Homo sapiens: one gene and its partner. The protein of the gene in region 2 interacts with the protein of the main gene of each other region in a pairwise test. Each region holds a gene or a part of one and is shown on either strand. Other genes may lie near its edges. The genes, in order: CPSF7 and TUT4.

The links.
Region 1: the proteins of TUT4 (region 2) and CPSF7 interact in a two-hybrid assay, tested with the Homo sapiens proteins (one large-scale study listed by BioGRID).

What each region holds. Positions count from the first base shown.
Region 1 is NC_000011.10:61,405,765-61,409,782, forward strand, and holds part of CPSF7 (cleavage and polyadenylation specificity factor subunit 7), read right to left. Parts: intron 1-4,018.
Region 2 is NC_000001.11:52,550,293-52,554,510, forward strand, and holds the start of TUT4 (terminal uridylyltransferase 4), read right to left. Parts: upstream 2,801-4,218; 5' UTR 2,639-2,800; intron 2,546-2,638; exon of another isoform or gene 1,919-2,545; intron 1,115-1,918; exon of another isoform or gene 1,065-1,114; intron 513-1,064; exon of another isoform or gene 388-512; intron 1-387. UniProt on the Homo sapiens protein: Uridylyltransferase that mediates the terminal uridylation of mRNAs with short (less than 25 nucleotides) poly(A) tails, hence facilitating global mRNA decay. Essential for both oocyte maturation and fertility.

The DNA of each region.
Region 1 (4,018 bases), on a different chromosome or scaffold from region 2:
GTCCTCCCTGATCCTTGTACACACCGAAATGACACTATTTTCAGCTTGGGTCCTCAGAATCTATATGGCCTAAGCCTTCCTGGCCTGTCTAAACACCTACGCAGGCTGGTATTTGTCCCATTTTCTCTAAGGGAAAACTGAAGCCCTCAGTGCACTCAATTACATACCATTAGGGCTTCTGAATCTTTGAATTCGATCCAAATTGAAGAGAAAGCTCAGTTTTCAATGGATAACGAGGACAGGAATGACGTGAGAATGACTATATTTCAAGTAGGATAATGTCCTAAAATAATGAGATAACTGACATAGTTGAGAACTACAAAAAGTTGAAGACACAGGTTGCAGAGGATAACTTGTACACCAAGAGAAGCAAGCCATAGCACTGAATTCTTAAATCTCCATGGCTACATTTTGGTGCCAATGTTGGAATGCAGGCAGAAATCAGAGATTCCTTCAAGTGGGCCAATTAGCCTTCAGGCCCCAGAACTGGGTCTTACGCCGAGAAAAGATGGACAAAGAAGGCTACTGTTCTATTGCTGCCTCTGGACAAAATGTACCTTTCACTCTCAGGGAACAGCTGTCATCATAGAATATAAATATGATTCATTTCTAACTAAAAGGTTGCTATAAATGAGGACCATGTACCATCTTCCCAACATGAAACTTCCTAAGCCATAACTTGGTCACTACAGATGGAATTAAGAGTCCTTAGGGTGAGAATGTAAGAAATTGACATTCTTGGGGTGCCTGATTCAGTTCTTTCAGACTATTATTCAGATGCAATAACCACTATATCAAACGGGTGACCAGGAAAAGTGAGGAAGTAGAAAACCTGCCTCAGAGTTAATTTTTCCCATCTTGTCATGGGCCTACACAAGTCAAATGACTGTTTTCTAGGCAATATTGTTACAGCATTTTCAAAGTTACCAAAAGAGAGTTATCCTCATAATGGGAGAAATAGTCTCATCTTATTTTATTTTTATTACTATTTTTTTTGAGACAGGGTCTTGCTCTATTGCCCAGGCTGGAGTGCAGTGGCACAAACATGGCTCACTGCAGCCTCTATCTCCCGGGCTCAAGTGATCCTCCCACCTAAGTGCCCCCAAGTAGCTGGGACTCCTCCTGCCTCAGCACCCCCAAGTAGCTGGGACTACAGGAGCACATCACCATGCCCAGCTAGTTTTGTATCTCTGGTAGAGACGAGTGTTTTGCCATGTTCCTCAGGCTGGTCCCTGAGCTCAAGCGATCTGCCCCTCTCGGCCTCCCAAAGTGTTGAAGTTACAGGCATGAGCCACTGTGCCTGGCCCCATTTTATAAGTGGAAGAAATAATGCAAAGTGACAGCTAAAGACTCAGGTTGAGATGTTTAATTCTCAAACTACTGCTGGATCAGTGGATCTCGCTGGTAATTTCCCTGTCATAAGGCTGTCAGGAGCAAAGCCATCAGGAATGGTGACATGCATTTATGTTCTAACTACTAAACTGAATGCAGCCCCAAAGACGACAGTGCATGCTCTGCACAGGTCAATCATCACCTTCCTGTTCACTCTTATCCCAGTCAGCTCCAAAAGACATACACTGTAGCCTACATGTGCTTTTCAACCCACAAGTAACACTAGCAACTGTGCAGACTCAAACAAGAAAAGGGAGTTAGGACTGGACCAAGACCAACTCTAATGCCTGCCCTCATGCCCACCTGAGACTGAATTAGGCCAAAGTTGTTTGTGGTCTCCATCTACAATAGCGTCTGCTTTTCCAGAGGATACATGGGCATCTCCCCAAACTCAACCTGTTGCAAAATCTAGAAAGAAGTACCTGGAGCCCACAGCCTAACTGTTGATTCTACATGAGTTAACCTAGATTTCAATGATGTTAAGCACTCTAGGATTTTGTGGAATAAATGAGTGGCTAACAACAGAGAACAGAGACAAAAAATATTAGTAATTTTTCATCTTTCCACTTACTTGTTTGGGAGAAGATAAAAACAATTCCTGGCTATAAATCTATTTAAGCTAATGGCCAAAGAACAAGACAGAGGGCAGTAGCCAAACCTAAAAGGAGTATTTTGGTTTTTAGTAGGTTGTCACTGGGCAAAATACTGCTAATTTTCCAACTATTTACATTCCAGCTACTGCTCATGAACTATAGGGGCTCACAGGTGGTGAGTTTCTTTGTCCTTCTTCATCCAGATATCGCCATCCCAAAGACACCAAAAAGAACTACTATTCTTTCCCCTCACCTTCCTTTTCAATTACCATTACTTTAGATCAAGCAGGCAAATAATCAAGGACATCTTTTTTTTTTTTTTTTTGAGACAGAGTCTCACTCTGTCGCCCAGGCTGGAGTACAGTGGCGCGATCTCGGCTCACTGCAAGCTCTGCCTCCCGGGTTCATGCCATTCTCCTGCCTCAGCCTCCTGAGTAGCTGGGACTACAGGCACCTGCCACCATGCCCGGCTAATTTTTTTGTGTGTATTTTTAGTAGAGATGGGGTTTCACCGTGTTAGCCAGGATGGTCTCGGTCGGGATAGAGACGGGGTTTCACCATGTTAGCCAGGACGGTCTCAATCTCCTGACCTCGTGATCCACCCACCTTGGCCTCCCAAAGTGCTGGGATTTCAGGTGTGAGCCACCGTGCTCGGCCAAGGACATCTTCCTAATGTACTTGATGTGAGACAGAGAAATGGGAAGTCCTAGAGACTTATAAATCTGCAACCACAAAATTAAGAAAGGACCCTGAAGTTACCTGGGTCACGCAGTAGCCTCCAAGAACTACAGACAGACCCCTAGCCACTCTGGCCTATTTTAAAGATTTCCATAGAAGCAGAGACAACACCTGCTCCTATATGCTTATATAATAGAAACAATCTTTCCAGAAGTTTTCCTTCAGTTGGGATTGCTAAGCTGGTAGGATGCAACCTAAAGACACAGCACCCCCTCTGACTCCCTACCAATATGGAGCCTGTCTAAGAATGAAAGCAACAGAGAAAAGCAGAGCTGAGAGATGCAGATAAAGTCTGGATGACACAGCCAGAGCCCCTGGATCCAACCAATCTTAACTGAACTTCTCCATTACTTAAGAGTTTTTATCCCAACCTTCCTGCTTTCATTTTGCTTCAAAAGAAAATTACAGCCAGTCGCAGTGGCTTCATGCCCATAATCCCACAGCACATTGGGAGGCTGAGGCAGGGGGATCACTTGAGGCCAGGAGTTCAAGACCAGCCTGGGCAACAAAGCAAGACTCTACAAAAAATTTAAAAATTAGCCCTCAGGAGGCTGAGGCAGGAGGATCACCTGAGCCCAGGAGGTTGATGTTACAGAGCCATGATGGTGCCTCATGACAGTGCACTCCAGCCTGGGTGACAGAGTGAGACAATGTGTCTATTAAAAAAACAAAAACAAAAACAAAACAAAACAAAACAAAAAAACAGCCGGGTGCGGTGGCTCACGCCTGTAATCCCAGCACTTTGGGAGGCCGAGTCAGGTGGATCACGAGGTCAGGAGTTCAAGACCAGCCTGGCCGAGATGATGAAACCCCGTCTCTACTGAAAATACAAAAATTAGCCGGGCGTGGTGGTGGGCGCTTGTAATCCCAGCTACTCGGGAGGCTGAGGCAGAGAATTGCTTGAACCCGGGAGGTGGAGTTTGCAGTGAGCCGAGATTGCGCCACTGCACTCCAGCCTGGGCAAGAGTGAGACTCTGTCTCAAAACAAAACAAAACAAAAAACACAACAACAAAATAAACAACCTTGTCACTAAGTCTTTTCCAAAAGCAAAAAACCCTTCCGTTGAAGTTAATTATCCACCACAAAGCCTCTAAACCTGTTAAAGATAATTTTTCAGATCAGCTTTCTCCTCTCTGACTAAAGCATATTAATTTTCAAAATCTTTTAAATAAACCGTTTTTTTTTTTTTAAAGAGATGGGGTCTCGGCCAGGCATGGTGGCTCACGCCTGTAATCCTAGCACTTTGGGAGGCCAAGGTGGGCTGATCACGAAGTCAGGAGTTCAAGGCCAACCT
Region 2 (4,218 bases):
CCCTTTCCTTTGACTTTTTTAGGTCTTTCTGGAATTGTTCTTTTTTAGAACGTATTTCTATCCTACTGCAGTGGCTTTAACTGAATTTAACATTTTTTAATCAATTCAAGTATTTGCAATTTATTTGAAAAAGGAACACAACTCATTGAGTTCTATTTTGTCAAACAAAATGTTCTGGCATCAACATTAACAGGTAAGTATTGCTTTTTTTTTTTTTTTTTTTTGTTTAAGACAGGGTCTTACTCTGTCGCCCAGGCTGGAGTACAGTGGCGCAACTGTGCCTCACTGCAACCTTGAACTCTGGGCTCAGGCAAACCTCCTACCTCAGCTTCTGGGACTACAGACGCACACCACCACGCCCAGCTAATTTCTTTTATTTTTTGGCAGTGACAAAGTCTCACTATGCTGCTCAGACTGATATCAAACTCCTACGCTCAAGCAATCCTCTCGCCTCCACTTCCCAAAGTGCTGAGATTACAGGCGTGAGTGAGCCACCTGGCCAGGCCCTACAGGTAAGTGTTGGTTATTTTGTTTCTCTGAAACTAGAAACTTTAACAGTGAATAAATTCAAACACCTTTCTTGATCAACAGATCCTGATTTGACATTCTGTAGAGAACACAACATAATTAATGGTACTTATTTTTATGTCAAGATTAACTTTGAGATAAAAAAGAATTCTAATTACTTACTCTAAAATGAATCTGCTGAGAGCTAATAAAAATTCTCTTTAAACAGCTCTTTGTTAATCAGAGAAATTTATAATTATACATTTTGATTCTAAAAGGTCTAAAATTAAAATGTAGACACTGTACTGTTCTAGCTCCAGCAACTAAAAATAAATGTAATTTTAGGTGTCACTTAGAATTTATAAACTTGAACTTATATGCATGACAATATTTGTTAATTTATCTGTACTAACAACTTGGCCTATGACAATGAAAATACTTTAAATTTCTTTTCTGTATTTAAATGTTTGCTGGATTTAAAACATCAAATGTCATTAACTTTCACTTCCATTTCTGAATTATTTTAAGAAAACTTCATTTTTCATTTTCCACACTAGCCAAGTGAAAAACTGCAAGCAGCAGAAAAATTTATCTAAGAGTTTTAAAAGTAAGTTTCTTTTGTTTATATTAAATATAAATATTTTTAAAGCATAAAACGACTTAAAATTCTTATCTTCCCCAAAGTATATGGTTTCTAAGAAGCAATCTTTAAAAATTTGTTTATAAAAGCAACATAGCACACTAGACACTAATGAGTTATCTTAAGCACAGCTTTTTAAGAGAATCAATATTTCATTTTACCAGTTGTGACTAATCAGTACTACGATGCAGTGTAGTGACATACATGAGTTCTAAGCCTAAAGAAAATTTCAGCGCGCTCGCGCGCGCACACACACACATACACACACACACACAAAGTCGGCTTTTCTTTTTAAACCATCCCACAATTCAACACCTCTCGGTGGTATTCTCTGAATTATCATATCTGGCTGGGATTATCCAATTTTATTAGCTAACAGTTCTCATTACTTTAAAAACAGAAACAGGATATGTTCTGTTTCATCAAGTGCTACAAACATTTCGCTGCTGTAAGACTGGAGGGAAAAAATCTTTGGAAATAAAAGGCCATCTGATCCACTCGGGCTAATTACTAAATGCATGCCAACAATACACAATTCGAATTGCATTTCTGGACACAATTTAAGATCACGATAGGGCAGGTCAAATGTGTAAGGAACTACTACTTCTATCAAAATGAAGAAGCAGATATACGGTATCTAAGATCTCACGCAAAATTCATCTAAGACTTCGAAATCTTCTGAAAAGAAAATGTGTAATCAACGTTGTTAATACAACAGTAATTCATCCCATTCAAGTACGACTAGAAATCCCGCTGATGTGCTTCTTTCAGGTCTAAACATCTCATTCTTTCGCAATCCAGATACCAACAGGAGTCTGAAACCCTTCGCAGAGGCGTGCAACACACTAGGAGAGCGCTATCTGTTTACAAATACGAATCTCAGTTACCCACGTCAAAACCGCGCATTACCACCTTTCGACTGGGGGGCGGGGGAGAGAGAAGGCGGGCGAGCAAGAAACAAAATCCACACAGACACCTCTGCCTTCTCCCTACAAGGACGAGCCCGGGGAAACATTCAGTATGTATTATATGCGTGTATACATTTATATACATTATGTAGTCACCTATGTCTAAGCAAGGGTGAAAGAAAAAGGTACACATGACAGGGAATCGTAACTGGACCCAACAGAAATGTTCAAACCAATCCCGTTAACTCAAAATCCGCCCCGCTGGTCTACAACAGGTTTCGGTCCGGGACCGGGAGCCCCAGCCACAGTGTGGAGTTCGTCCCCAAAGCGCCCCAATGCCCTCCTCAGGCCGCCCAGGCCGCCGTCCCCACCTCCCTTATCTCAGCCTTCCCCTGGGACACCCGAAGCCCGTTCCAGGAAAGAAAGAAGTGTCAGGCCCCCAGGGGGCGGCTGAGACGCTCTCAGGCCAGGCCCCCGACACCTGCGAAGCGCGGCACCTGGGGAGGGCGAACCGGGGGCCGCCCGGCCTTCCCGAGCACACCCCCTCGGTACCCGACGCTGCCCCGCGGCCGGAACCTCGTACCTGCGAGGCCCGCGAGCTACAGGCGCGCGCGACGCCTCCTCATCTCAGTGGCTCCTGCTCTCCCTCCGCCTCCTGCTGCCGCCGCCGTCGCCGCTGCCGCCGCTGGAGGCCGGGACACGACTAGCTCAGGACTCCACCGCCATGTCCGCCGCGCCGCGAACTGCATTGTGGGGGGGAAGGGATGGGGAGGGGGAGGAGGAGGGAGAGGGAGAGGGAGAGAAAGAGGAGGACCCGCTGAGGGGAGGGGGCGAGGGAGAGCGGTTGCCGGGGGAGAGGGGGAGGGGAGAGGACAGAGCCTGTAATGGGGTCCTGGCCCGGGAGAGGAGGAGCTACGCGCAGAGGGAAGGGTTCAGGGGTGCCCCCTCCCTTCGTTCGGGGGGCCCCACAGGCACCGTTTACACCGGGGCGGGGGAGGGGGGAAACAGCACTGGGGGGAGGGGTCTCGTGGTGGCCGCGAAGAAACAATGGGGAGAAGGCCGAGGTAGGAGGATCGCGCACTCACACCCACGCGGAGGGAAGGGAGCGCGCGAGAGACACTCGTTAGCTCGCGAGGAGGGGGCGGGCCGCTGGCAGAGGGGAGGAGGGAGCCACCCGGGGCTCGCGGGCAGGGGCGGGGCCGCCGAGCGGAGGTCGCGAGGTCCCGCAGCCCGCCTGGGCGCCGCGGGTTAGCCGCGCTGATTCGCCCGCTTGCCGGAGTGGGTGGGGGTGGCGGGCGCCCCAGTGCTGCCCCAGTCTGGTTCCTAGTCTCTGCCGAGGCCCCCGAGCTGGAAGCCGAGCCCGAGGGCCGCCTCGGCGCCTCGCTCCCAAGGCTGCTCCCCCTGGGGAGGAAGGCCGGCCTGGAATGGGTACCCTCTGGCCTGGCACTCGGACTGGGCGTGGCCCGAGCCTCGGCGGACCCTCGGAAGCCCAAGCGGGCTTCGGAGCAACGGTAGGGAGCGGGGCAGAGGAAGCCGCCAGGGTCGACCCCCACCCACTCACCACGGCCTCCAGCCCACCGCAGCTGGACCTTTTTTCCTTTGAAAAGGCAGGCAGTTCAGGAATGAAGGAGCTCGAAGAGAAATCTCTGGAGCACTCCATCTCCCACCCCCAAAAGAGGTTTTAGAAATCATTTCTTTAGCTGCAGGCGGGCATAAAACCATCTACCATCAATGGGCCCCCTCATCCCCTTGCTTTTAACGTATTACATTCCTCTACATAATTATTTAAAGTCACGGGCGGAACGGACTTAAGGTTTTGTTAGTTTTGTTTTTTGTTGTTTTTTTTTAAGACCCCAGCCTCAGAGATTATTTAGCCAATCTCTGACCTCAAAGCTGGACAAAGCACACAACCTCTGTGCTCTGTGCCCAGTCCTTTGAGTTTGACACATGCTAGGCAGGAAAAAGGTATGAAAAGAGTGGACGTAGAGGTGAAGGGAAGATGTTAAATCTTAAGTATTTACAAGATAGTGCCTTATAAATTTTCTTATAATGTGACTCAGGCTGGGACTGGTTAGAGGTCACAGAGGGACGCTCCACTTCACGATAGCCCTGTGAGTTACGTACTGTTGCTCTCATTTACGGATGAAAAAACTAGGGTTCAGA